Homo sapiens: one gene and its partner. The protein of the gene in region 1 purifies or fractionates together with the protein of each later gene. This does not show direct contact. Each region holds a gene or a part of one and is shown on either strand. Other genes may lie near its edges. The genes, in order: PROM1 and CDHR1.

What was found.
Region 2: the proteins of PROM1 (region 1) and CDHR1 purify together in Homo sapiens (affinity purification with western blotting; one study listed by BioGRID). This does not show direct contact.

The regions. Positions count from the first base shown.
Region 1 is NC_000004.12:15,986,463-15,990,278, reverse strand, and holds part of PROM1 (prominin-1 isoform 1 precursor), read left to right. Parts: intron 1-454; coding exon 455-547; intron 548-2,562; coding exon 2,563-2,616; intron 2,617-3,816. UniProt on the Homo sapiens protein: May play a role in cell differentiation, proliferation and apoptosis. Binds cholesterol in cholesterol-containing plasma membrane microdomains and may play a role in the organization of the apical plasma membrane in epithelial cells.
Region 2 is NC_000010.11:84,214,900-84,218,715, forward strand, and holds the end of CDHR1 (cadherin-related family member 1 isoform 1 precursor), read left to right. Parts: 3' UTR 1-3,795; downstream 3,796-3,816. UniProt on the Homo sapiens protein: Potential calcium-dependent cell-adhesion protein. May be required for the structural integrity of the outer segment (OS) of photoreceptor cells.

The DNA of each region.
Region 1 (3,816 bases):
TAGGAGCTTAGGCAAGTTATTTCTCCCTTCTGCCTTAGTTTCCTCATCTGTAAAATGGGGTAATGGTATCTACCTTATAGGATTGTTATTCATTAATAAATTAAACATTCATTGAGTGTGGGTTAAATAAAAATTTCTCTATGGGTCCTTGGTTTTCTCACCTGTAAAATGGGAAACTGAGAGTGGCTGTATCATGGTGAGGTGGAGAGAACACAGTCTCTGGCACTCAGGAAGGGCTCTTGGGTGTGGGTTATTGCTGAGAGTCCATGGTTCTGTGCTTTGAAGGAGGGTGTCTTGGCACTATCCCTCACACCAGCCCCCATGCCCACTCACAGCCATCATTGCATGCTTATGTCATGGCAGCCCTCCTGGCTACACAGGGCCCCTGAGGATAGCGAGAGTGCTTTGAGTCTGGAAAGATGGTATTGATCTTTGTTTTTTATTCTTTTTGTAGCCCCCAGGAAATTTGAGGAACTCCCTGAAAAGAGATGCACAAACTATTAAAACAATTCACCAGCAACGAGTCCTTCCTATAGAACAATCACTGGTAACAGTCAACGACGTATTGTATTTCACTGTGACCTGAGCAAAATCTACTGCAGCTAGTTGGCTTTCATTTAGCCTCACGACACATGCTCATCTCTCATAGGTCCCAGCTGACTGGCTTCAGCCCCAGAAGTTGAGCTGGCCTTTAGACAAAATAATTGCACCTCCCTCTGCTGCTTATTCCCTTCCGTTTTTCATTTGAGTGTGAACAGTTAGATAAAATCTGTGGCTGTCTCTTCCACCTTGCTCTAGTTTCCATTGCTGTGAGCAGGCCCTCCTATGCCCCGCATTTAGCTACAATGCTGTGGACTCACTTGATTCTTTTTCTCCGAGCTTTGTCTAGAAATATGTGAAGGTGAGGTTAAGTGCTTCTCTGTGTAGATCCACTTAGCCCTGTCTGCTGTCTCGATGGGCGTTGCTTCGTCTCTCCTCTCTTCCATCCTTTCCATTTGCTTCTCACCACCTTCTGGCTTCTTTTCTTAATGCAATAAAGGCAGTTTCTAACAAAGAAAGAATGTGGGCTTTGGAGTTAGACAGACCTGGTTTTAAATTCTGCTTCTGGCTCTCCAAACTATTGTAGCTTCTCAGTTTCCTCATCTAAAAATGTTGGGATCAATAACTGCCTTGCTCTTACCTGTTCATGGAAATGAAGGACCTGACCTCAGAGGATCTCAGTAAAGAGGAGGAATTATTATATTATGCTTGTGTGTGGGCCGTATTTGTAGCCATCAAGGAGAGAAGTGTGTGGAAACTGGGTTACTGAATCAGCTTGCTCAGGTTTGGACAAGCAAGTAAATCCACTTAGCCCCAACATCCAAACATCCGAACATCCCAACCACTAAACTTCCCAGAACTAATTTCCAATACTCTTTTTTTCTCTCTCGATTTCCTAATTTATTAGATTATTCACAAAGTCCTGTCACTGAATTTTCTTAATTTGTGTCCAGTGCTATTTACAATTTTCTGTAACTGGTTTATGCCTAACACAAATTTGTTAACATTTTAAGCTGGTTTTGCATTTTTTTAAATGCTTTTTTCCCAAGTACACAGGACCCTTTGGCCTTTTCAGAGCTAGGGCAACCTGTCCACAAATAGGCAGAGTGCTTCCTACCTGAGACCTATGATCTAAACCAGGGGTTGGCAAACTAGGGACCCTGCAAACTACAGCCTGCAGGCTAAATTCAGCCTACCAGCAGTTTTTGTAAATAAAATTGTATTGGAATATGGCCACACCCACTCATTTGCAAACTCTCTGTGGCTGCTTTTGATTACAAGGACAAAGTTGAGTAGTTGGGACTATGGCAGATAAAACCTAAAGTGTTTACTCTGGTGTTTTACAGATAAAGTTTGTCAACCTCCTGTCTAAACCATTCAGGTTAACCACTCTTGCGGGGCAGGCTCTGCTTTAAATAATGCCTTCCACTTTGATCAAACCTAATTCAAAGGGATTTCTTGGATGCCTCACATGTGATTTGCTGTTCTTCACAGCTTTAGGATATGTATCCAATGTTTTCTTCAGGTTTTCTTACACCAGAGGCATAGAAAGTACACATTGTTGGCCAGGCGCGGTGGCTCACACCTGTAATCCCAGCACTTTGGGAGGCCGAGGCGGGTGGATCACCAGGTCAGGAGATCGAGACCATCTTGGCTAACACGGTGAAACCCCGTCTCTACTAAAAATACAAAAAATTAGCCGGGCGTGGTGGAGGACGCCTGTAGTCCCAGCTACTCAGGAGGCTGAGGCAGGAGAATGGCGTGAACCCAGGAGGCGGAGCTTGCAGTGAGCTGAGATCGTGCCACTGCACTCCAGCCTGGGTGACAGAGCGAGACTCCATCTCAAAAAAAAAAAAAAAAAGAAAGTACACATTGTTAATTGTGTTGGTTATTTTTTCTAGAATGAAACCATTACAGTGTAAAGACAGATTTGATGGCTATCTTGTGGGAAGGGAGGACACAAGGTATGTGATCTTGCTGCTTCATGTAATAATTTTGGAAATATTATCTGTTTCTTGCCAGAGCACTCTATACCAAAGCGTCAAGATACTTCAACGCACAGGGAATGGATTGTTGGTAAGGGTTTACTTTGTTTTCTGTCATGGGGTTTTGTTATAAAATACCACACAAAGAATGCTAGAAATGTGGATTTTTGTAGGTACTTTAAGTTGAAAAAAAAAGCCTCAGTTATCTACCTATTTTAAATAGCAAATTGGGCTTTCCTACTATTTCCTTTCTACAAGTACTTCTCTAAGTGCAGACCTCATCTTAGCAGGCTATTAGATACATAGGTGAAATCTATGTTTTGATGTGTAGGATGCAAGCTTGGAAGGTACATTGGTCCCTTTCACAGAGATAATGCTGCCTAACACACAATCCCAAACCTCAGTGCCTTCTAAGTATAAATGTTCATTTTCCCTGCTGGTTTGACAGCAGGCTTCTCTACACATCTTCCCATTGAGAGACCCGGCCTGAAGGAGCAGCTCCTGTCTGGGGCACCTCATGTCCTCATAGTGGAGGACAGGAGTTCAGGGGATGAGTGGAGGCACAGGTTGTCCTTTAAGCTCAGAATGGGCACCCTGCCCCTTCACCAGCGTTCCATTGGCCAAAGCAAGTCACATGGTCACACACATCGTCGTCTGGCTGGGGAAGTATACTCCACGCTCTGGGAAGCCATCCAAGGAGCATATCAATAATCCTGAACAGCTAATGCAATCTACCTACCACAGGGGCCATGTGTGGGCTGCAAGCATTCCCTCAGCAGACACAGAGCTGCAAGGCTGGGTTGTATTCATCTTGTATCTACAGTACCAATGGGCAACTCAGAAGATATTTTTTCATTGAACGGAATAGTCTGTACATGACAGGTTTTGGGTATCAGCCCCACAGGATAAAACTAAATGTTCCTCCTTCCACTTTTCTCAGTGAGACCAACATCATGGCTCAGCTCCTTTGAAGATGTTTAGATTTACTCTGCTCCAGGACCCTCGCTATGCCTCTGATCACAGTTGCCATTTCATAGGTGTGTGTCTCATGCCAGGGGAACCTGGAAACACACCAGTGACTACGTGCAGGTGCTTTGCTACCTCTGTGAACAGGGCGAGGGTGTGCAGTGGTGCAAGGCCTTTCATGAGGGGCCCAGCCAAGGGGGTTAGTCGAGGGCAGAAACTGGCCATTGACTGAGTTGCCAGGCTCTGTGCCCTGAGGTCCCTGGGCAGAAAAGGCCCCATTTCCAATTTGCACCAAGCTGCCATGTGGGTTGGCAGAGGACTCGTC
Region 2 (3,816 bases), on another chromosome or scaffold:
CTCCATTCTTCAGGGCTGAGAATTGACGAGAAGCCAGCTCACCCATCCCAGACCTCACAGTCCCTCAGGTTCTACTGGGATCTCATCATCATCCTTAGTCAAGCAGCAGGGCCCTGGCCACGTGGAGCAACACTGACTAGAATCTGGATCCTGACGCCTGCAGCTGAGAGCAGGAGCAGGAAAAGGAGGCTCAGCACTGTCTCAGGCTGGAGGTCAGCGAACCTCGTGGGCTGTAGGAAAGCAAATGTAGGTAAGGGGAGAGCAAGGATGCACAGAAAACACACTGACTGTGGGACTGTGCCAGGATGCATTTGGAAAGATAGAGCATTCTGTCTGGGCAGAGACTGTGGACCCTGGTATGCCCACGTGGGACAGAGGACACAGAGGTGGAAGATTGATCTTGCCAAGAGTGAGGGCAGATGTCTCCAGCCAGGACTGCCCTGAGCCGCAAAATGTCAAAGCTGGAGCTATAGAGGTAGCCCTAAAGGCAACTAGAAGAGCATCAGGGCTGCTCTCTGAGGAGCTGCCCCACCAGCCATCCTTGAAGAGACAATTCAGGGCAGTTGATGAATATCAGGGCTGAGATGTGGTGAGACTTCCGTTTTTATCCAGCTCTTTTGCTCACATCGCGTAACCTTGGGAAAGCTGTTTAAAGTCGCTGATCATCCTCTTCCTCATCTGTAAATGAAGAAAGTAGGCCCTGTCTACCTCACATGCAGGTCTAGGGTGAGGATTGAAGAAAATAGTGGTGATGAGGGCTTTAACCAAGTGCAAAGCGGCATGAATGCAAAGTATTTTTCTGCAGCCCAGTTCTGTGGGTGCAGCTCTTCCAGAAAGTATTAGGAGCCTCACATCTACTCTGCCAAGCGCCCCAGCAGGCACTGTGCTGGGCTTAGGGGCTACCACTGGATGATGGCATTGCCGTGACTCACACACCTCTACTTCTGTTCTTCCCTCACTCCATCCCCGCTACCGTCCTGGCCAGCTACCGTCAGAGAGAACCAGAGCTCCAAGTCTTTAATTTGCCAAGATGAAGAAAATGAGTTCTCAAGGAGGGAATGCTTTGCTTGAGGCCACACAGCAGGTTGGTAGCAAAGATCTTGTCTAGCCAGGGCAGCCCTTATCAGCTTGTGACAACCTTCCCCAGGACAGAAGTCATACAAGGCCTCTGGGGTTAATACAAATAGGTTGTGCCCTGCTTTAAGGAACCTGCTATCAGGAAATCTACATGTGTGCACAGAGAGAGAAAAGTAGAACAGTTCTTTGCATTTGGCTCTACTTACTAACAACCCCTCTAGAATACATTGGTGATTTCATTTAAAGAGATTGTATGCATTTGTGGCTTTCCTGATTTCTGAGTCTGTGTTTGGAGGTGTTACTGAGATGTGCCAGTGTGCAGAATCCTTGCTGGGGTTTCTACAGTCCCCAACGTGAACAGTATTAAGCAAGAGGTGGACTCGAGCAATCCAGGAGCCCAGACTGAGCAAATAAGTACTTTCCAGCCTGTGTTTCAGGAGAGGACTGTGCTGGATCATGCTTGCCCTCCACAGGGAATACAGCATCCTTACAGCTTGCATGCAATCAACCTCTTTTGTAAATGGAAAATAAAGTCTGTTACCCAAAGGCCATGCTGATCCCCTGCTCCCTGCTTTCATTTATGTTTGCTGACCTGTGGAGACCAGTCTTTCTGACACACAGTGAAGCTCAACTTGCCTCCTGGCTGCTTCAGCAGGTGGATCCATTCTTCGACCCCCAGATGTGACTCTAAAGAAGGCTGAAAATTTTTGTCCAAATTGCCATGCAGATATCTTGAACAGCAGGACATTTGCAGGCCTTGTCTACTGGACTTTTCTCCCAAACAGGACAAGCCCAGGCAGGGCTGCATGGAGAGGAATGGAACCTGGAGCTAGAATTAATTGCCCACTCTCCCACCCTACCAGTGCAGCCCGGCAAGGGCAGGAATTGGGAGGCCTAGGGTGGGCATGAAAGCTTGGGAAGCACTGTCGTCTCTCAGACAGGCGTCCTAAAGACCTCTAGGCTGGAAGCTTGGGCTTGCAAGTGGATCCGGGACCGAGGGTGGTCTCTTGGACAACCCCAGGAACTTGGACCAAGGCAGAGCCAATCTTGCAAACTGGCCATGGATGGGGAAGTGCCCGGTAGCCAGCATGAGCCACACTAGGAAAGAGGAGGAGGGTGCAGCCAAACTTAAGGCACCGGCAAGTGTTGTCAGCACTGGAGGAGACCCCGCCAGTGGGGTGAGGCCAGCCAAGTCCCTGTGTTACGAATGGTGGGCCAAGGGGCTGTCTGCTAGGTCCCAGTAGGACAGGCAGAGCTCCAGGCTGGCACCATGGTAGGCCTCCAGGGAAAGAGCTGGGAGGCAGGAATGGCACACTGGGCAGGCTTGCCCATTCCTGGCCCTGAGAATGGAGCTGTAGCCTCATGGACAATAAATGGATGTGACACCAAATACTCTGCAGAGTCATTTTCCTCCTGCGGCTGAGCTCAGATCTTCCAATCACGTGAAATAACAAAGTCCTTTACAGTTTGACAGCCCTAGGTCTGAATTCTGGTTCTGCCATTAATTGTGACTTTGGGCAAGAGGTCAAGTCTCTCTGGGCCTCACTTTCCTCATTAACACAGGGTGCAAAGTATGGTTGCAGAGAGGATGAAAAGATCTAATATATGTAAAGTGCCTAGCACCGGCTTTGTATCTACTTACACAAGCTCAGTAGACACTTGCCGTGACTGTGGCCCACATACTAGAACACCATGTCCTGAAAGAGAGGACCCCCTCCATGCATCCTCACCCCCCAGGATGTTTCCACCCACCTGTAGGTCCAGAAGCTTTTACTTCATGCTAGAAAAAGAGAAGAGAGTGGATCCAGAGGGGAGTGGAGGACAGGGCAGATGCCACAGCATCTGTGGCCTGTGTAGCCGGCAGCCTGCATTTGGGCGTTGACATTCCAGGGGAGTTAGGAACAATGAGAGGTCTCTAAGAACTTGTGGCACTCTGTCCTCAAGCAGCTGTCCCTCAGAATCCTGCTAGAAAAGTGTGATCAGAGCTGGGAAGGAGCCACCATGCTCTGCTTCTCTAAGGATTTCGGTGATTCTATTTTTAGGGACTGAAGGCGTTGAGGGAATCCAAGGCCAGTCCACCTGCCAGGGGTGTTGGCATCTGTTGACAGGCAGTGGCACATCCTGACAGTCTTCAAGGCCTTGGCCACCAAGGGATGGAGAGGGAGAATGGAGAAGATGCCACATGAGGAATGAGGCAGGAGACTGGCATGTGCCACATGGAGGACCCCTTAGGAAACTCACAAACAACCTAGGGAGGGGTTCTCTGAAGGGCCTAGTTTCCAGAATGAGGCGGTCATGGCTTAAGCGACCATCATTTGATCAATAAAGCAGAGTAGCAACAGGCTGATGTTGGGGACATCGGTTTGATGTTATAAAATCGTGCACATGTACCCCTTTTGAGGCCTGAATGAGGTTCGGTTATTTATTCATTTCTCAATAATTTACTCAGCCATTCCTAGGGTGACAAGTTTGGAGTATATCTTCTGTGCCAGGCTCTCTTCTAGGTGTTAGGTGTATGTCTCTAACAAGATAGAAGGAAAGAAGAAAAGAAAAAGAACAACATTCCTCTCTTTAATTGCTAATCGCCTGGGCCTAGGGAGTCTTCATTTTAAAAGCAAGTAGCCCTGCTTACAAATGTCTCCTCAATCAAAGGCATTTGCCTTAAACTTGTATGGTCTAAACTCTAAATAAATAAGCTTCTCAAGGGCATGACAACTATATCGGAAACTGTAGCATCTT